Linked DNA regions of Homo sapiens: regions 1, 3, 4 and 5 are each reported to be linked to region 2. Evidence: microRNA targets listed by miRTarBase, many of them from high-throughput screens and not tested one by one. Region 2 holds a microRNA gene; each other region holds the end of a gene's coding sequence.

What was found. The annotated mature microRNA hsa-miR-5584-3p reads UAGUUCUUCCCUUUGCCCAAUU and lies in region 2 at 2,914-2,935, shown strand. An mRNA with a match to its seed (bases 2 to 7 or 8) in the 3' UTR can be bound and repressed. Matches are read on the target gene's strand: a 7mer-m8 pairs with bases 2 to 8, a 7mer-A1 pairs with bases 2 to 7 and ends in A, and an 8mer does both.
Region 1: the mRNA of IWS1 is a reported target of hsa-miR-5584-3p. The part of its 3' UTR that is shown has no 7-base or 8-base seed match.
Region 3: miRTarBase lists POFUT3 as a target of hsa-miR-5584-3p. Seed matches in the 3' UTR shown: 7mer-m8 at 741-747.
Region 4: the mRNA of UGT2B28 is a reported target of hsa-miR-5584-3p. The part of its 3' UTR that is shown has no 7-base or 8-base seed match.
Region 5: the mRNA of MAGEB4 is a reported target of hsa-miR-5584-3p. The part of its 3' UTR that is shown has no 7-base or 8-base seed match.

Annotation. Positions count from the first base shown.
Region 1 is chr2:127,477,273-127,481,394 of GRCh38, reverse strand. It overlaps IWS1 (interacts with SUPT6H, CTD assembly factor 1), which reads left to right. Exons shown (of 14, transcript NM_017969.3): 14 at 220-583. The coding sequence ends at 351. Among named protein-coding and RNA genes, the nearest start is that of IWS1, 47 kb to the left of the region's middle. RefSeq lists an enhancer at 637-1,588.
Region 2 is chr1:44,542,618-44,546,739 of GRCh38, forward strand. It overlaps MIR5584 (microRNA 5584), which reads left to right and starts at 2,876; the gene lies at 2,876-2,935. The region is part of intron 2 of RNF220 (ring finger protein 220); the gene reads left to right. RefSeq lists an enhancer at 3,093-3,619.
Region 3 is chr8:33,368,673-33,372,794 of GRCh38, reverse strand. POFUT3 (protein O-fucosyltransferase 3) reads left to right here. Exons shown (of 5, transcript NM_032664.3): 5 at 1-1,971. The coding sequence ends at 218. Among named protein-coding and RNA genes, the nearest start is that of POFUT3, 100 kb to the left of the region's middle.
Region 4 is chr4:69,294,279-69,298,382 of GRCh38, forward strand. UGT2B28 (UDP glucuronosyltransferase family 2 member B28) reads left to right here. Exons shown (of 6, transcript NM_053039.2): 6 at 252-772. The coding sequence ends at 531. Among named protein-coding and RNA genes, the nearest start is that of UGT2B28, 16 kb to the left of the region's middle.
Region 5 is chrX:30,242,516-30,246,637 of GRCh38, reverse strand. It overlaps MAGEB4 (MAGE family member B4), which reads right to left. Exons shown (of 1, transcript NM_002367.4): 1 at 2,451-4,122. The coding sequence ends at 3,462. It also overlaps a transcript of MAGEB1 not described here. Among named protein-coding and RNA genes, the nearest start is that of MAGEB1, 2.6 kb to the left of the region's middle.

The DNA.
Region 1 (4,122 bases), not on the chromosome of region 2:
AAGCACAGACAACAGAATTATTCTTCACTGAGAGAGTTTAATATGCGTTTCTAACACCATCTATACTTGCTTTGTTGTTCTTGAGGTCATCAACACACATTCTGGTTATTCCAGAGCTAGAAGCTCTTCTGGTTGCTAACTCAGTTATAAGAAGATGAAAGACATAACTAGACTTACGTATTTCAGTAGTTTGCTCTTTAATTTTTCCCTTACTCTTAGTTTCAGGCGACCTCCAAGAAGGGTATCAGTCGACTGGATAAACAGATGAGAAAGTTCACAGATATAAGGAAAAAAAGCAGATCTGCACACGCAGTGAAAATCAGCATTGAGGGCAACAAAATGCCATTGTGACCTTGCCTGGAATGTGTCCCCATCTCTACTCTAAGAAATGCGCAATGGACTCTTTGGAGAAAGAAGATATTTTAAAACATTTTTAGTGTGTCTGTAAATGGTTCAGCGTGTATCAGATGTTGTCATAGGACTCACATTTCTCTCAGTTATATTTAAAACCGTTGTGTACTTTGTACAAAGGAATACTAGTCATACTTCTATAAACTTTACACAATAAAATTTCATTCTGGTTTTTGGGGGGCTGTCTCTTCATTTCTTAGAGGATACATTCTTAATAGGGGCAAAGATTGTTTCTTGTTGTGTGGGAAAAAATCTTATGATATTATAGGGGTTTGTGACCCTTAGAGGTTCAATCCTCCCTCATTGTGGTATAATGAGGAATTTGTGTGGCCTTTGCCCCTGGTTGCTGACAAGGAATGTCTAAAACACTTGTGGTTTCCTGAGTGATAGAGCGTCTCTTGTTATGCTAACGAGGTGACTGTATGGTGGGCTTTAGGGTGGAGGCTGGTAACCAGAAACAGCTACTACAGAGGGTTGGGCCAGCAGGACCCGGGAGATTGAGACGCAGTCAGTGACCTGTTTGATTTAATCAACCATGCCTGCCAAATGGGACCTGATGAAGAGCTCTGGACCCCACAGCTCAATGACGCTTCTTGGTTGGTGAAAGCATTGGTGTGCTGGGAGGGAGAGGATTCCCCTCCATGAGGACAGGGGCACAGAAGCTCTGCCTTCCCTCCCAGACCTTCCCTTATGTATCCCTTCATTTGACTGGCCCTCCTAATTCATATCTTCTGTAGTAAAACTAATCATAGTGTTTTCTAGGGAAGGATAGTGCTTTCCTGAGTTCTGTGAGTCATTTCAGCAAGTTCTTAAACCTGAGAGGTTTATGAGAACCCCAAATTTGTAGCTGGTCAGAAGCGACAGTAGCCTGGATGCCTCACTTGTGGCTTGCATCTGAAGTGGGGGCAGTATTGTGGAGGACTGACCTCTTAAACCCGTGGAGTCTGATGCCAGCTCTGGGTGTGTCGTATCAGAATTGAATTGCAGTACCTCAGTTGGGGTGGAAATGGAATACCAACAAAATCTTATTAATGTGTTTCTCTTATTTGGGATAATTATTTTGATTTTCATTTTTCTCTGGGATGGGGGCTTATAACAGAGAAAAGATCAAGAAATACTACTGTCTTCAAGGAAATATGGATATAACTGAAAATCACTATGCCGAAAGCTTAGAGCAGTTGAGCAGTTAGAGGAGAGAGAAAAATTATAGCTTGTAGCTATGTTTCTTGTTGCTCTATTTTTGTGATAATAGTCTCTATAGACTTAATTATGAGAGGTCTCTTAAGGTCAAGATGACGAGGCCCAAGAACGTTTTATCAACTAGATTATTTTAATTTCAGAAATCCTATTCTGATACGGATTGGCACCTTGATCTTCAGAAACACATAAAACTACTTTTGGCCAAAAAAGCCTTTGAACAGCTAAAATAATGAAGTTTAGATACTAAAACACTGCTCACAAGAAACTCTCAAACTATTTACTTCCAGCAAACGCAGAAGCACAGTGGGATATAGTGCTTTGTAAAAAGCAGGTGCATAAAGGCATTAGAAGGTAATAGCTAGCCACTAGATGGAGACAAAAACCTAAGCTTTTCTGCAATGTTTCATACAAATACCCTCAAAAACACTTGAGAAGGAAAAAGCAGAGGCATCTAGTGAAGCCTTACACTGATCATTAAAAAATAAATTTGAAACAAAGACAACAAAGGTTGTATTTAAGAAAGATTTTTAAGTTACACAATTTTGTCATTTAATGGGGTAAGCTCCAATTACCTGAAAATTTCACTATTACAGGGTAAAACTTTAACGATGTTGGCAAGTAAAAAGTTTTAAACCATACCCGGGGAATTCAAAATGGTAAGAGATTCTCCTGTACTGTGTTTGAAGGAAAAAATTAGTTTCTATATAAATGATCCTTGGTGTTGGTTTTATGGCAGCTCAAACCTAGCTGGCCAGAAAAACCTTTAATTTTGAAGATATTTCCAATTTATAGTAGTTGCAAAAATAGTAAATAAACTCCGGTATACTCACTGATATTTACCAAGTGTTAACGTTTTGCCACGTCATTGACTCTGTCATCTTGTATATGCATAGAGCTATTTTTGCAGACTCAGAGTAACTTGCCGACAACTTGCCCCTTGAGCCCCAAATACTTCAGCATATTTCTTCCAAGAACATAGACTTTAGTTTTGTCCCAGAATTGATGATACTAACTTTGACAACTTGGCTATGATGATACAGAGTTGTGGGGGATTTTGTTTGTTTTTTAAGAGATGGGTTCTTACTGTGTCGCCCAGGCTGAAGTGCAGTGGTGTGATCCTAGCTCCCTGCAGCCTTGAACTCCCAGGCTCAAGCAATCTTCCTGCCTCAGTCTCCTCCCAAGTGGCTGGGACTATAGGCATGCACTCTCATGCTTGGCTTTTTTTCTTCCCCTTCCGGTTTTAAGATTTACTATCTTAAACAGTTTTACCGCTCAGTGGCATTGAGTATGTTCACAATGTATCGCCATCACCACCATTCATCTTCAGAAATCTTCTCATCTTGCAAAATTTTAACTCTACCTATCAAAGAACTCTCCTTCCTCCCCCAAGCTCTTGGCAACCACCATTCTACTTTCTGTCTCTTACGAGTTGTCTGTTCTAGGTACCTCATATAAGTGGAATCATACATTTGTCTTTTTGCGACTGTCTTATTTCACTTGGTATAATGTCCTCAAGGTTTGTCCATGTGTCCAAATTTCCTTGCATTTTAAGGTTGCATAATATTCCAGTGTGTGTATATACCACATTTTGTTTGTCCATTCATCTGTCAATGGACACTTGGGTTGCCTCCACCTTTGGCTATTGTGAATAACGCTGCTGTGATCATGGGTGTACAAGTATTTGTTCAAGACCTTTTTTTCTTCACTTTTAGAGATATTAAAAAACAACCATTTTTTTTTCCAATTCTTTTGGTTATATACCTAGAAGTAGAATTGCTAGATCATATGGTAATTCCATTTTAAATTTGTTTAGAAAGTGCCATACATACACTTTCCATAAGGGGCTACACAATTTTATATTCCCACCAATAGTACACAAGAGTTCCAATTTCTCCATATGCTTGCTAACACTTGTTATTTTTATTTTTTGATGGTAGCCATCCTAAGTGATGTGAGGTGGTATCTTGTGATTTTAGTTTGCATTTCCCTAATGATAGTGATGTAGAGCATCTTTTAATGTACTTTTTGACCATTTATATATCTTCCTTGGAGAAATGTCTATTCAAGTCATTTGCCCAGTTTTATATTGGGTTGTTTGGTGTGAGTTGTAGGAGTGCTTTGTGTACTCATGTTAATGCTTTATCAGCTATATGATTTGCAAATACTCTCTTTCATTCTTTAGATTGCCTTTTCACTCTTGATTGTGTTCTTCGTTGCACACATTTAAATTTTGCTGTATCTCACTTTTTTCTTTTATTGCCTGTGCTTTTGGTGTCATATCAAAAAAATTATTGCCAAATTCAATATTATGAAGCTTTTACCCTATAATTTTGTAAGTTTAGTTCTTATGTTTAGGTCTTTGATCCATTTCTAGTTGATTTTTTGTATGTTGTGTAAAATAAGGTTCCAACTTTATCCATTTGCATATGGATATCAAGTTTCCCCAGCAACATTTACTGAAAAAAACTTATTTTCCCCATGGAATGGTCTTGCAAGTCTTTTCAAAAATCA
Region 2 (4,122 bases):
TGGGAGCCCCAGATGAAAGGCCATGGGGGCTGCACTTCAGGGTGATCCGTAACTCACTCTGACATCTGAACAGAAGGAAGGGCTGCCCAGGCCCCTGCCCCACCACCTCTCATTTAATCCACAGGGAGACAGGGAGCCCAGCCTTGGGACGTTGCTAGCAGCTTCCCCTGAACCCTCGAGTTCTCCTGTAGCAAATTGGGCTGACCAAAGAAGGCTGGAGAGGGGAGGAAGGCAGTGCTGGAGAAAGGAGTGGTTACCTTGAGTGGGGCTGGGGGCCGGAGGGTCTGCGCCTCCCCTCCCTGCCCCAGCCCCTCCCAGGCCCGCTCCAGGGCCAGCCGCACTGGGCCTCATTCCTGGAGGGCCCTGTCTCTCGGCAGTGTTGCTAGGTGCGGTGAGCCCAGGCGCCTGCCACCGGCTGGCCAAGGCTCTGCCTGGAGACCATCGGAGAGCTGGGAAGAAGGAGCTGCATTATTTGGTTGATCCCTCCCTCCCTCCCCCAGCCTCAGCACAGTGAGCTTTCCGGAGGGATGGTTCTGAGCCAGCCCATCCCCAGGCCTTCCTCTTTGTGCAGAGACCTCCCCGTCAGACCCCCCACCTTCGCCGGCTACCCCCTCCCCCTTCCCTCCGGTTGAGCAGAGCCAGAGTTAAGCCTGGGGTTAATGCCCAGTGACACCTGCAGGTTGGCTAGTGTTGTTGACATGGGGCTGGGGGGAGGGGAGGGGGTGATGGGGGAGATCGTTGGTGGCTTTATTATGGAGAACTCAGCAGGCCTGGGGCCTTCTATTGTCCAAGTGGCAAATAAATAAATAGGAGAAAGTAAGTCTTCCCCATGGCTTACCGACGGGAGGTTAACAGCTGGACATGACATGACAAATTGGGCATTTTTCTTTGGGGACTGATCCTTACAGCAGCTAGCAGGGAGAATGAGAGAGAGAGAGGGAGGGGGAAGTAGAGAGAGCAAAAGCAAGCCGGAGCACGGAAGGGGCTAGTCACAGAAGTCAACGTGGAAGCCGTGTGTGCATGTACAAGAGTACGTGACCGGGGTGTACAGGAAACATTGCATCATGTTTTGGGCATTAAAAAAAAATACATGCAAGCATTTCACATGTAACGACTTCAGGAGTCAATCCCAGAACCCCAAAAGCTGGGTATCTGGCTGTGGGGGGAGATATCTCTGGGATCTGCCTTCTTGAACCCCTCCCCCGTCCTGCCAAATGGAAAAACCAAAAGGTCAACGCCAGCTCTGATCCCAAAGAATCTCCTTCCTCCAGATGAGTGGGATTACTGGGCAGTGGCGAGTGGTGGAGCAAGCAGCCTATCTCCAGCCTGGGCCCGGGGTGAGAACTCTTGCATTATGCCCAGTTGCCCGGAACTGGTCCCAGCTGGACAGCAGAGCATCCCACTGGCCTGTGGAGCTGGGGACAGAGAGCAGCAGCTCTCCCCTGACCCTGTCCCATCTTCCTCCTCATCCCCAGGGAATACCCAGCAAGAGGTCGGGAGGACCACAGGAGACAACCACTCCCAAACAATGATCTCAGTTGCCCACTGTGAACTGGAGCGGGGGTGGGAGAAGAACAGAGCAGGAGCAGACAGGAAAATGCTTGATCTCTGCCGGGGCCCCAGAACCATCTGAGCCAAGGACTGCTCTCCATCCCTGTCTTCTGAGGCTGTAGATTATAGTGGGTAGTCACTTGTGCTCTGGAGTCAGACAGACCTGGGATCACCCTGTTCCTCTTGTTCTTGGCCCTGTGATCTTGGCATGCTATTTAACCTCTCTGAGCCTCAGTTTCCTTATAGGTAAAATGGGACTAATACCAGTACTAGCCAGCACGAGGTTTTAATGAGTTCATGCATGTAAGTGCTGAGTGCAGAGTCTGGCACACGATAAATCCTTTATAAATGCCACTCAGCATTGCTCTGGGGCTAGCCAACCTTTTCCTCCCTGTTGCCCTGTGTTTTAAGATTGACTGAGGGCTCTATAGAACTGTCCTCCGGAGAAGGAGGGAAGTGCATCTCTAGCTCACCTTTCTGGAAGTTATCCTTTCAATCTCCAAAGGCTGGGCATGGATTAGCCTAAAGCCTTGTGGAACTTTGCCTTCCAAGACATGTTTGTTTCTAGCAGTGGGCTGCAAGGAGAAGCCTTGTGGCTGTGATTCTGCTCCATGCCCACTCCACGGCGGATGCCTGACCAGTGTTCCAAGGACATTTTGAAGGAAGAGAGGATTTCTGATTTCCAGGAGGGGTTGTTGTATGTCCTGGAATGCAATCTCTCCATTCTCCCACTGGGTACAGAGAAAAACCACAGGAAAATGGTGAGAAGATGCTGAATGAGTTAATGCAACCAGGAAATACTTATTGAGCATGTACCAAGTGTCAAGCATGGCTCTAGACCCTGGGAATAGAGCCACAAACAAAGCGGGCTAAAATCCTTGCCCTTGAGGAGCTTACGCCGTAGTTCTCTAGGAAGGCAAGCGGGACACCTCGGCGTTGCCTCCACCCCTTCCATGTGGCCATGGTCCATTGTGATCTTCTATGCTCTTCCTGTTGGATTCAAATCAGGCCTCACAGAAGAGCCAGTCACAAAGGGAACTCGGAGATGTGCAGGACAGAGAGAAGAGCTGACGGGACATCTGGTACCTTCGGTTGGAGGGAGGGCAGTTTCTGAGGATTAAAAGAAGCTTTATTGAAGGGAGGTTTGAAAGGAGAAGAATTGTGGAGAAGAAAGCTACTGTGTATTTCATGCTGATTCCATGCCATTAACTTTCAGGCACTTTACATCCATTATCTAATTTTATCCTCAGGCACTCAGCAAGGCAGTTCACGTTATTCCCACCTTGAGATTCAGAGGAGGAAGTGACTAATCCAAGATCCATAACAGGGAAATGGGAAGAACTAGATTTGAATCCAGACCTTTAGTTCTTCCCTTTGCCCAATTATGCTCCTTGTGGTTTGCTGGAGAAAGCCTGGCAGAGGGTGCAAGGGCAACAGTGGGGGTGGGGGTGCAGAGGCTAGGAGACCTGACCAGAGTGTAGAGGGGTTCACAGGGCCAAGGAGAGGAGATATCTAGGGGGCCTAAAGATGGGTGAGACCTCTGAGCCTCCCTAAAACAGCATACTGCAACCTCTTCATCAGAAACCCAATTTTTTTTTTTTTTTTGAGATGGAGTCTCACTCTTGTTGCCCAGGCTGGAGTGCAATGGCGCAAACTCGGCTCACTGCAACCTCCACCTCCTGGGTTCAAGCAATTCTCCTGCCACAGTCTCCCGAGTAGCTGGGATTACAGGCATGCGCCACCACGCCCGGCTAATTTTCTATTTATAGTAGAGACGAGGAGAAACCCTTTCTTGCATGTTCTCCTACCTCATTGCAAACCTTTCTGAACTGAGTGAGGGGCATTCTGAACCTGAGAGAGAAAGGGGCTAGTTCTCTGAAGATCATCACCAGACCATAGAACCAAAGTGGGTAGAAGGTTTGTAAAAGGAGGTGGAAGGTGTGACAAAGACAATAAGCACCCGAGATGACTCACACTGCTTGCCAGGTAAGCATGGGCTGCAGGACGTGGGAGGAGAAGCTGGCGAGCTCACTCTCGGTCCTGGTTCTTCCGGCCACCCAGCCTCTTCATGGCCAGTACCAGAAGGCCAGATCCCTGTCCTCCTCCCCAGGCCCAGAGCCATGGCTCAGTGGCCCCCCAGGCCCAGCCTAAGAGGTCGCATGGCTAGGACTTCTACCTGGAGAATCACCTCCACCGCAACATCTGAGAGCAGGAGCCACACAGGAGCTTTCTTCTTCCAGGAAGTCCCTTCCCCCAGCCCCCTGCTACTCACTCCCCTATATAATATTCCACGTTAGAGCTCATAAATGCTGCTGCGGGTCCCCAGCCTGATTGAATTTGGAAGCCATTGTTTACAGACGTCTGGCTGTACAGGGGGATTTATTGAATTTTCCATGAAATGTTGCTCCCCTAATGCTGTAAAAGGCAAGCAGACCACATCAGAGGAGCCCTGCGTTACAGGATCATGTTACCCCGAGATGGAGTGCTTGCTTCAGAGTCATTGATGCACCGAGCTCTGGCTCTGAAAAGTAAGACCTCGGGCATCACTCCTGACCCCTCGCTGGCACCCCA
Region 3 (4,122 bases), not on the chromosome of region 2:
CCAAAAGATGGGAGGCAGAAGATACCCACCTGAGTTGCCCAGAGCCCACAGTGTTTGCTTTCTCACCACTCCGGACTCCACCTTTGAGCTCTTTGCGAGAGATGTGGATTTCCAGCTTTGAACAATCCAAGAAAGAAGCCCAGGCACTAAGGTGGCTGGTTGATAGGAATCAAAACTTTTCATCTCAAGAGTTTTGGGGCCTAGTATTCAAGGACTGATTTCAAAAATGATCAGAATGAAACAGACTAGAGCCTTCTTGAGGTTTATTTTCTAGGTTGCCTTAATATTTGAACATAATAGCTATTCTGTTGACTATCCATCAGGATAATAATTAGTTGCTGCAGTACTCATAATGAGCCCTTTCAAGGAATAGATGTAAATTACCCTTAGGGGTAGCCACTATATTTTTTATACTAAAAAAGGAAATATTTCTTATGGACACTGGTTATCTTCCATGTCCGTGTCTGTGGACCCACATACTTACTGCCTTTTGTGGAAATTCACCTAGAGTGAGTACTTTCCTTGTGCAATGGAGGGAGACGATCTAGCTATAGATTCTTGATACTCACCTCACTCTCAACAGCTTATTGGTATTTGGCAAACCTGGTATCCTGCAGCCGAGCATGAACATGAAATACATTAGAACTTGGCAATGAGAGATCCCATCTGTTGGTTTCCAGGGATGTAAGTGAGTAATAAAAGCTGTTTCAAGTTTATCCACTATCCACTCTTCAAGTGAAAAGAACTTATGTGTGTCTACCTTCTTCTCCATACCCTGAGCCACCTCTCTCACTTTCTTTAGTTGTGCCTTGCCCTATCGCCTCCCATTTTCCCTTCAAAGTAGAATGTCTTGTAAAGACACAGTAACTCCTGTGTGTTTTGATTAGTGAGATGTTACCACTTACCCCTTCTGCTGCGCAGAATAATATTAAGAATTGCTATGCTTATGATTCAGGCTGGACAGCCTGGACATTTTGAGCAGCGCGAGAGTAGAAGTGAATACCCCCAGGAACTCCAATTGTGCTGAAGCTGATTTGTCTGTTCGTAGGATGATGTGCAGCCTGTCACAGTGGCAGCCACAGGCATTCAGTTTGTGGGCATTTCCTGTCATTTCGGATCCTGCTATAGGGAAGGTTCAGCTCTCCTGTCTGGGGCATCTACTGGAGCACCTCAGAAGACAAGGAGGAAAACACTGGCTCATGTTTTCTTTCCATGTGAGGGAGGGGAGGTTTCTAGATGATACTAAAAGCCTGTTGCCACTGTTGTGTCATGATTTCCATTCTTCATCATGGAAAGCCACAAGCCTCAGAAGGCAGCCAGAGGACAGGAAGAGTCTGTGATGCTCATGTCTGTGTCATGGCATGAGGGGGAATTGACGAGTGCTTGCTTAGCATCAGCTCTCATTGTATTGAAGGCTGTGCCCTTGGTGTGCTTAGCAGTGAGCAGCGTCTTCATTAGGTAGCTCTGGCTGGGCTTTGTCAGCCAGCGTGTGAGAAAGGAGAACCAAAACCAATACCTCCTTATAGAAGCCAGAAGGATCACATTGGATGAGAGAAGGTGTCTATAACTGGGTTCTTCCCAATCCCAGCTCTTTCATTAACTAAATATGATCTTGGACATATCTCTTAACCTCCATCGGCCTTAGTTTTTGCATCCAAAAAGAAGTGATTGGGCTGGTCTTGGAAGGTTTTTTTCTTTTTTTTCCCCTGTGTAACATTCTTCATTGTTCATCAACATTTAAGAAATTTAATTTTGTAGATGTTTTTACTAAAGAGGGTAACAAACTATTTTGGAACTGCTGTATGTTATTCAAGGGAAGCACGCTGTTTGGAGGAAGGAGCATACTTAATGGGTAGTATTGAGGATGAAAGGGAATTTCTCTCTCTGCCATTTTATTTGATAATATTAAAGAAATAAAGACTGGAAAGGGGGATTCCTTGTTAAAGGTCAGATTTTAAATTGCATATAAAATGAAGTGAGTTGTGTTTTTTTGAACCCTCAAAAGAAAGCCTGAGAGGTGATTTATGCCTCTGGCAAGGTATTATCATGATAACTTCAGTTCTTCTCCATAAATGCCTTCAGCAAATACCCAGTGCTTATGTGCTGTGTGTATGTCTTAAACCTTAACTTTCATGAAATCTCATTCCATCTTAGTTCTTCATCAAGTCCATAGATAAAATCCTCTCTAAGCGTTTCTGAAGTATGTATCCCTGAACAAATTTAGTGAAATAAAATCATTAATCTGTGTTGATCCCATTTTGCCATACCTTTCACTTTACCTCACTGTCTCCTTTTGTGAAATATTTTAAGAAAGCAACGTCCCTCACAGGACTGTTTTGAGGAATGCCTCATGGCTGTGAAGGAGTTTGTACAATGCAACATTTTGCTTAGCCCTTCAGTACATTTTACTTGGATTGTTTTCAAGAACTTTATTTTTTTTGAGAAGAAGTCTTGCTCTATCACCTAGGCTGGAGTGCAGTGGTGCGATCTCAGCTCACTGCAACCTCCACCTCCTGGGTTCAAGCGATTCTTCTGCCTCAGCCTCCCAAGTAGCTGGGATTACAGGCACCTGCCACCAGGCCTGGACAATTTTTTTTTTTTTTTTTTTTTTTTTTTTTTTTTTTTAGTAAAGATGGGGTTTCAGCATATTGGCCAGGCTGGTCTTGAATTCCTGCCCTTAAGTGACCCACCCACCTCGGCCTCCTAAAGTGCTGGGATTATAGGCCTGAGCCACTGCGCCTGGCCATTCAATGACTAATTTTTAAAAGCAATATTACAAAGTGGTCAGAAGCCTTTTCAGAAATGTTGGAGAAAATGATCACTAATGCTAGTTAATAGTCTTCGCCTAAAAATGAATGCAACTTTTACCCTTGATCATATAGCAAATATATTTTGGAACCTGAATGCTGAATGGCTTCTTTGTTGCTGTTAAGGACTAGATTCTAGTAACCAGAATATCAGTTGGGGTCATTATCATTGTTAGTAATAGATTGGAAACATATAGTGTTCTATGCATTACTCAGAAATAAGAGACATAAGCAAAAATGAACATCATTCCTTCAGCCACACATTGTATATTACACATAGAAGAACCTGCTCAATATCTATAAAAGACTGTATGAATTCAAGCACAGTGCCGACCTGCCCAGTAAAATGCCCAGTAAAATGTGCATTAAAAAAGTCATTAATAGGACATAAGTCCTGCTAAAGATGGCAATTCATTAGGACCTCAGGCTGCTGTAACAGAATACGATAGACTGGGTGGCTTATAAGAAACAGAAGTTTATTGCTCACAGTTCTGGAGCAAAATATAAATTATGGAAATTTTCTTTAGGAAATTTCTTTCTTTTAATTTTTATTGTTAATGGTAATATCTTTACTGTGTAATTCTAATATCAGCATATATCTTGTTGTCTTTGATTACAGACATAAAAATGCTTGAAAAACTCAAAGGGGATATAGAATGATGACTCTAAGAAATAATCTAGTTTTAGTTGCTACTCTGCAACATACTGTCTTTATTATCTTGGTCAAGTTATATGGCCTTTCTAAGATTCAGCTTGCTCATCTGTAAAATGGATGTTATAATATCCAACCTCCTTGTGAGGTTATTGTGATGAGCTAGTGTTCACTTTGCTCAATAGATGCTTGTTGTAGTGGTTACAGCTATCTGTGGTCATTACCCTTTGTGTTTGAAGAGCTTGACTGAGATTTGTCCAGAAAAAGGGAATCGTTGATGATAGTACCTGGGGTGGTACACATTTATTGTGTTACAAAATAGGCATTGTACTAGGCGCCATTGCTGATAGGAATAAGACACAGGAGAGAGAGGTGTGAAGGGTTTTGAGTAGGGCTTTTTGATATTATGATGGTATTAAAACCAAGGACTGAGGAATGCTTAAATTATTCTCTGACTCTTCCCACCCTCCATGGGATTTCTGGTGGAGTCTTGCACAAAGCTCTCAATAGGATAATCAGACTCAAACAGCCTCTTTATAGTAGCTTTGCAAACCACATAAATGCAGTACACTGATTGATTGTATAAGCTGGATCTGAGCATATTATTTAGATTTGAAGTGTAACTAGGAGAGGATCTTTTACTGCCTTTCCATTTCCCAATTC
Region 4 (4,104 bases), not on the chromosome of region 2:
TTCTCTGCTTGAAAAAAATTAATTTTCTCACCTGACCTTCCATTTCTGCTTTAAAAATGTTTGTCAATGAGAAAAGTCCAATTTAAAAGCCCAACTATCTATGATGACTCAAATTAAAATACACAAATTCTCTGTCAATTCTTTCAAATTTACTTTGAATTATTTGACACTTTAAAAGCCTTTCATAGACTTGATACATACAGGCCAGTTAACTTACTTTCAGTGTTGGTATCTTTATTTTTATCCTTCAGATATAAAGAGAATGTTATGAAATTATCAATAATTCAACATGATCAACCAGTAAAGCCCCTGCATCGAGCAGTCTTCTGGATTGAATTTGTGATGTGCCACAAAGGAGCCAAACACCTTCGAGTTGCAGCCCGTGACCTCACCTGGTTCCAGTACCACTCTTTGGATGTGATTGGGTTTCTGCTGGCCTGTGTGGCAACTGTGATATTTGTCGTCACAAAGTTTTGTCTGTTTTGTTTCTGGAAGTTTGCTAGAAAAGGGAAGAAGGGAAAAAGAGATTAGTTATGTCTGACATTTGAAGCTGGAAAACCAGATAGATGGGTTGACATCAGTTTATTCCAGCAAGAAAGAAAAGATTGTTATGCAAGATTTCTTTCTTCCTGTGACAAAAAAAAAAACTTTTCAAAATCTACCTTGTCAAGTAAAAATTTGTTTTTCAGAGATTTACCACCCAGGTAATGGTTAGAAATATTCTGTGGCAATGAAGAAAACACTAGGGAAAATAAAAAATAATATAAAGCCATATGAGCTCATATTGAAATTTGTTGCACTTATATTGAGATTTGTTGTTTGAATTCACAAGTTACATAAAAATATTACTCAGTTTAACTACATTTCACACATTTTATATAAACACAAGAACATTAAGAAGTCTACTGACAGTATCAGTAGTGTTTTGCACATACTCAGAATAATTTGGCTTCATTTTGAACAGGATTCGGTTGTTTTAACTGTTGCTAAAGAAACTATTACATAGTTAAATTGTATAAAAAGTCTCTCTCTTCCTTTTGATATCTTGAGATAAGTAGTATTGCTTTACTTTTACACTGCATGCAGCTTCATTGTCACATTTTTTGCTAAAATTGATGGCCAAATGTTTACTGTTTTAAGAGCATAAGTCATTTCTCAGTGGAAATTATGTGAAATTAGAAATATAGCCACTGTTACCTGCTTCCTACTGTAAAATTGAACTGTTTTGCCACATCTTTGGTTTCATGAGCAAATTCTATTTTTTCCAGATATTTAAAGATATTTTTCTCGTTGATTTTATTCTGATATTTTTAATTACTTCAATAGTTATTTGGGAACAGGTGGTGTTTGATTAGATGCATACGTTTTTTAGTGGTAATTTCTGAGGTTACGTGGCACATATCATGTGAGAAGTGTACCTTGCACTGAATGTATACTCTTTATCCCTCACCCCCTCCCACACTCCCATCTGAATCCTTAGAGCCCATTACATCATCTTTATGCTTTTGCATCCTTATAGCTTAGATCCCACTTAGAAGTGACAATTGACGATGTTCAGTTTTCTATTCCTGAATTTCTTCACTTAGAATAATGCTCTCCCACTTCATGCAAGTTGCTGTTAATGCCATTAGTTTGTTTCTTTTTACAGCTTAGTAGTATTCCATGGTATATATATATATATATATATATATATATATATATAGTGTATATGCGTGTGTATACGTGTGTGTGTGTGTGTGTTTGTGTGTGTTTGTATCAGGGGAACCCACCTTCAATATTTCAATGTAGGTTCTTCCCATTTTCCATAAGTGTTGGCCAGCTGAGAAATAAAGAGAAAGAGTACAAAAAGAGGAATTTTACAGCTGGGCTGCCGGGGGTGACATCACATATTGGTAGGACCATGATGCCCACCTGAGCCTCAAACCAGCAGGTTTTCTATTAAGGGTTTCAAAAGGTGGGGTGGGGAGTTGTGTAGGAACAGGGAGTAGGTACAACGATCACATGCTTCAAAGGACAAAAGGCAGAACAAAGATCACATGCTTCTGAGGGAACAGGACAAAGGGCAAAGCAGAACTACTGATAAGGGTCTATGTTCAGTGGTGCATGTATTGTGTTGATAAATATCTTAAACAACAGAAAACAGGGTTCGAGAGCAGAGAACTGGTCTGACCACAAATTTACCAGGGTGGAGATTTTCCCCACCCTAATAAGCCTGAGGGTATTGCAGGAGACCAGGACATACCTCAGTCCTTATCTCAACCACGTAAGACAGACATTCTCAGAGTGGCTGTTTATAGACCTCCCCCCAGGAATGCATTCCTTTCCCAGATTACTAATATTAATATTCCTTGCTAGGCTAAGAATTTAGCGATATCTTCCCTACTTGCACGTCCATTTATAGGCTCTCTGAAAGAAGAAAAAATGGCTCTTTTTGCCCCACCTCACAGGCAGTCAGACCTTATGGTTGTCTTCCCTTGTCCCCTAAATGTTGTTGTTATTCTGTTCTTTTTCAAGGTGCACTGATTTCTTATTGTTCAAACACACATGTTTTACAAGCACTTTGTACAGTTAACACAATTATCACAGTGGCCCTGAGGTGATGTACATCCTCAGGTTATGAAGATAACAGCATTAAGATATTAAAGTAAGACAGGCATAAGAAATTCTAAAGGTATTATTTGGGAACTGATAAATGTCCATATTAAAGTGAAATCTTCACAATTTATGTTCCTCTGCCTCAGCTCCACCCAGTCCCTCCATTCGGGATCCCTGACTTCCTGCAACATCTGTGTGTGTGTGTTTGTATGTATACCACATTTTCTTTATCCACTTATTGGTTGGTTGATGGGCATTTAGGCTTGTTCCATTCTTTTTCTTTTTTAATTGCGAATAGTACTGTTGCAAACATGTATGTGTGTGGGTCTTTTTCATATAAAAATTTTCTTTCCTCCGGGAAGATACACAGTAGTGCGATAGGTGGATCAAACTGTACTTCTACTGTAATTTCTTATAGAAATCTTCATATGGTTTTCCATATTACTTGTACTAGTTTACATTCCCATAGCAGCATAAAACTGTCCCCTTTTTACCACATCTATGCCAACATTTTATTATTTTTGGATTTTTAAATTATATTCATTCTTTCAGGAGTATAGTGGTATTGCATTGTGGTTTTGATTTGCATTTTCCTGATAATTAGTGAAGTTGAGCATTTTTTCATATATGTTGGCCATTTATATATCTTCTTTTAAGAATTGTCTATTTATTACATTAGGCTACTTTTTGGTGGGTTTTTGCTTTTTTTTAGCCATTTGAAGATTCTGGACATTAGTCCTTTGTCAGATAAATAGTTCATGAATATTTTCCACTATTCTGTGAGTTGTCTGTTTACACAGATGATTATTTCTTTTGCTGGCGGAAGTTTTTAGTTTGATTAAATCACAACTCTTTATCTTTGCTTTAGTTGCATTTGCTTTTGGATATTTGGTCATGAGGTTTTTGCCTAACCTAATGTCTAGAAGAGTTTTTCCAATGTTACTTTCTAGAATTTGTTATTGTTTCAGGTCTTAGATTTCATTATTTGATCCATCTTGAGTTGACTTTTTATAAGGGAGAGACAAAGATGCAGTTTCATTCTTCTACATGGGGATTGCCAATTATTCCAGCCCCATTTGTTGAATAGGGTGTCATTTCCCCACTTTATGTTTCTGTTTGCTTTGTCAAAGTTCAGTGGGCTGTAAGTACTTGTCTTTATTTCTGGAATTTCTCTTCTGTTCCATTGATCGATATGCCTGTTTTTATACTGATACCATGTTGTTTTGGTAACTTGTAATATGCCTTGTAATACTTTGGGTAATGTGATGCCTGTAGGTTTGTTCTTTTTCTTAGTCTTTCTTTGGCTATGCAGGTTTCAAAACTGAGAATCAAATAAAAAACTCATCCATTTTGAAAATAGTTGCAAAAGAAAAAGAAAAACAAAACAAATTACTAAGGAATCTACCTAACCAAGAAGGTGAAAGAACTCTACAAAGAAAACTACTAAACACTGCTGAAAAATGTCGTAGATGACACAAACAAATGGAAATATATCCCATGCTCATGGAT
Region 5 (4,122 bases), not on the chromosome of region 2:
TTAAAAGCCCTACATTGATTCTTGTTAGGGTCTCGGCCTCTTCGCTCTGTAAAACTGAGGCTGCCCCAATTAGACGGAACCAGTCATCTCCCTGAGACTTTCCAGGCAGAATTCAGCCTGCCATCTCCGCCAAGGCTTCCTAGGGCTGACAGCAGAGGGGACTTTGTGAGGCCATGTGGGTGCTAGCTACCCTTAGTCCACATTCAGGTCCTCACCTTGACAAGTGAGCAAACCTGTAACTTACCCTTTGTTTACCTGAACCTGCTCCTCTCACATCAAGGTCCTGTTTTCTGAGAATTTCGAGTTGTACTCCTGGATGATCTTCATATGATCACAGTCCTTTTGCAACCTGCAAAAACAGATAATAAGGAAAGGACTCCATAGAACCCCACAGTTTTGGCTGGGTCCTTCCATCAGTCTTCATTTATGCTCCTCGCCTTTACATGTATCAGAACCTGGGACTCCTCTATCTACTGAACTGAGGTCACTCTCCTGAGGGTCTGGATGAACCCTTACATTTTGGAGTGGTTTTCTCCCCACCATTCATTCATGAGGGTTCTCATGTTGGCTTCTGTCTCTTGATCAAACTCTTCCAGGGAAATGTCACATCCCTGCAAAAATTTGACCAGTTTCCTCTTTGCAAACCTTGCAGAGAAGAGGTCCCTGTCCCAGAAGTGATGTGATGTTGGGAAACTGAAACGGAAGGTGGAGAGCCTAGGACAGATGTTGTGCTCTCAGGGAAAAAAACATGCTGATCTATTCCTTCACTTCACCAACCAAAGGGTAGTTCTAAAAGTTTTACTTTCTACAGAAAAGGGTGGAGCCAGATGATTTTTGTAATCTTTTGATCTTTTGAAGCTATCCAATTTTGCTTCTGTCGGTGATCATATTGTCACCGAGTATTATTTCTTTTTCTCTTTAATTCACATCTGTCAATTATTTTGGTATTCTTCTTGCTCTGGTTATGTATTCCAATCCAGTGTTTGGGGTACAGAGACCTCTTCTTTCTTACCTGAGACACACTTTGGGGTTGTAGAAGAAAATGAATTAAGCAATTCACAGTAAGCTTCAGTTTGGGAGGAGTGGAACAGTGTGGGCTCTAGAGGAATTCAGACCAGCAGTCTAGTTCCAGCCCTATCACTTACTAGCTGTGTGAACTTGGGCACATTAATAAACTCTATGAGCCTCAGGCTCTACATCTGTGAAATGAGCTTGATAAGCCTTGTCTTGTAGGACTGGTGGAATGTGGTGAAAGTGTGCAAAGCCCTGGTGTGCATTGAGACTTTAAACAATACTTGTTATTACTAAGATTATTTCAACTACAGAAGAAATCATCCACCCTGCTGATTTTCTTTAAGTCCAAGAGATAACAAAGAATATACAGCATTCTAAGACATGGAACAATAAAATCAGCCCAAAACGCAGCTTACAAAGAAACTCTAAATAACTTTTCCATATTAAATCATATTTTGAGTGTGGAGTTGTCTTTCTCAGCTGAAAGCAACTCAAACCTTCTAGGCTTTGGTTCAAGGACCAACTCTGACCTTTCATCCAAACCAGTCTTATTTTCATTCATTTTACCACCATCAAAAATCTAGATCTCCCTTAGAATTTGCAAAAACACATGAAAGGAAAAAAAATTCCTTTTAATGGAATGGGTTCTGGCTCCCCAGCTGATAGCAGAGTATTAGCCCAGTGGCTTATGAGTTTCCAGTCTTAAAGGAGTATCACCTTTATTTCTCAGAAACACCCTGGGGACTACGCTCATAAAACACCTAGTTTGTGTACTGGATTCACTTCACTTGCACTGGGACAAGAGCACCGGCCACTTTCAATCCCTGCTCCAGGCAAAGATCCCCTCTGGTTTTTCCACAATCCCAAAGTAACTGTTAAAGGCAATTTTTCATTCCAGTCTCCATCTCTCAAGTGTGAGATCCACCATCTGAGTGTGTGACCCCTGCTCAGTGCGCCCCATATAGGCACTATGCCAGGACATAAAATTACCTCCTATTGCAGTATGTTCAGTTTCCCGAAGTCTCAGTTACCTTGCTTAGGACATTTACACTAGATTCCACTGCTGGTAATACCCCCACCTTCTTTTTTATCCCCTTTTCACCTGTCTTTAGGTCTTAAGGAGTATCTCATTACCTTCGTTATATGATAGCTGCTGTTGGATTCTAAAATTCTGTGGGCAGGGATTGGGGTTTTTTTGTTGTTTGTTTGTTTTTTGTTTTCTTAGCTTATCCGGTACTAGCCAGGAGCCCTCCAAAGTACAGCTGCTCAATTAATATTTGGACAATTGAAGTGTAAGTGACCAGGAAGTCAAATGTATTGCTATTTAATTTCCCCCACATTCCTGAAAAAGCTAAGCAGATCCGGGTACATATACTTCAGTTTTACAAAGAAAGACTAAAAAGAATAAAACAAAGCAAGAATTGACCACATTTTACTTTTTTTTTCTCTACTTCCTGGTCCCACCAACTTTATTGCAAGGTAATTTCCTTTTCACAAATTCCATATTCCAATGCCATATTATCTTGTTCTAGATCACAGAAAAAGACTTAAAAGATTTTTAAATTGTTTTACATAATGCAAAAATTCTCACTCTCCAACCTGATATATTTTAATAAATGAGTGATTCATGCCATTCATAAACTTAGATTCTGAAACTAAATAAATCTACAATTTAAAAAAAGAACACTGAAAAACAGGAAAAAGAAAAGATAAATCATTTTACATACAAATATGTTATACATGGTGTTCCCACCAACTCCCCTTTGGCTCTCCATTAATTAGAAGGTTAAGTGTTTTCTTAATCAAAAGTAAAGAATATACCTCAGACTTCACAAGGAGTGGGAGACACTGCTGGACACCACACTGAAACATGCCAGGCCCAGTTGCAACACTGTCTCTGGCTCTCTCTCCCTCATCTCTTAAAGTCTTCTCTTAATGGAGGGAAGACAATGGAGACACTGTCATTGACCTTGGCCCAGGCCTCCACATTCTTGAATAATCTAAGCAAACCAGGTATGTAACTTTTAAATTTATGAGCAAAAAAAGACTGAACTGAGTAAGACAAACCACGAATAAAGCAACTTTTACTTTTCTTCCCTTTCTATCTTCAGATTCTACCTATTTTACTGTGGAGTTATTTTAAATTTCTAAGGATAACCTTACTCCCATGCCGTGTTATTTTGCTCTGTATCACAAAAATTATTTCAGGATTTTCTATTTGTATTTCAAAAACAAAATTATTATCACTAAACCAACCTGATAAACAGCAATAAATGTGTGATGCATGCCATTTCTAAATTTATATTCTGAATCTAAATAAACTTTCTATTTTAAGAAACATCATGGAAAATACAACAAAGAGATAAATCAATGAGTTATTCATGCATCACAGGAACAGAGAAAGCAGCAGGTCTTTCAACCACAAAGTGAACAATTTGCCTTAGATCTCACATGGGTTGGGAAGAGCTACTGGATGTGGCCCTGGAATACGCACTAGTCATGGCTGTAGTGCCACGCCTGGCTGCAACTCTGGGCCGGGCTCCAGCTCTCTCTTCTTCATCTCTCAAAGCCTCTTCATAAAGCAGTGGGAAGTTATTGGGGGTGGTGTCATTCACCTTGGCCAAAAACTCCAGGACTTTCATCTTGCTGGTTTCTGCATGAGCTCTTGGACCCCACAGGAATTGATAGCGTGGGGGATCACTGTTGGGCACCTGCTGGTATTCCAGATATTTTTCCTGTACCAGATCTTGGGTGATGAGCTTTCGGGGTTCCCCAAAGATAAGGTGCCTCTTTCCATCATAGATCCCCAGCATATTCAGGAATTCCCAGATTTCCTCTTCACGGGCACAGTTGCCATTTAAGAAGATCACACTCAGTAGAGGCATCAGAAGCCCATTCCTTGGAAGGGTCCAGGCACTGCTCTGGTTTCCATCGTTGGGGCCTAGCATGCTGACGAGGATGTAGGAGTGAGTGGTGGGGTTGACCTCCTTCAAGGCAAGGCCAAAGACCAGCTCCGTGCGCTGAGAGACTTTCCTGAAGATCTCAGGGAAGTGCTCCTTGTACTTTTTGCTGATGATCTTCAGCATTTCTGCCTTTGTAGTGGGCTCT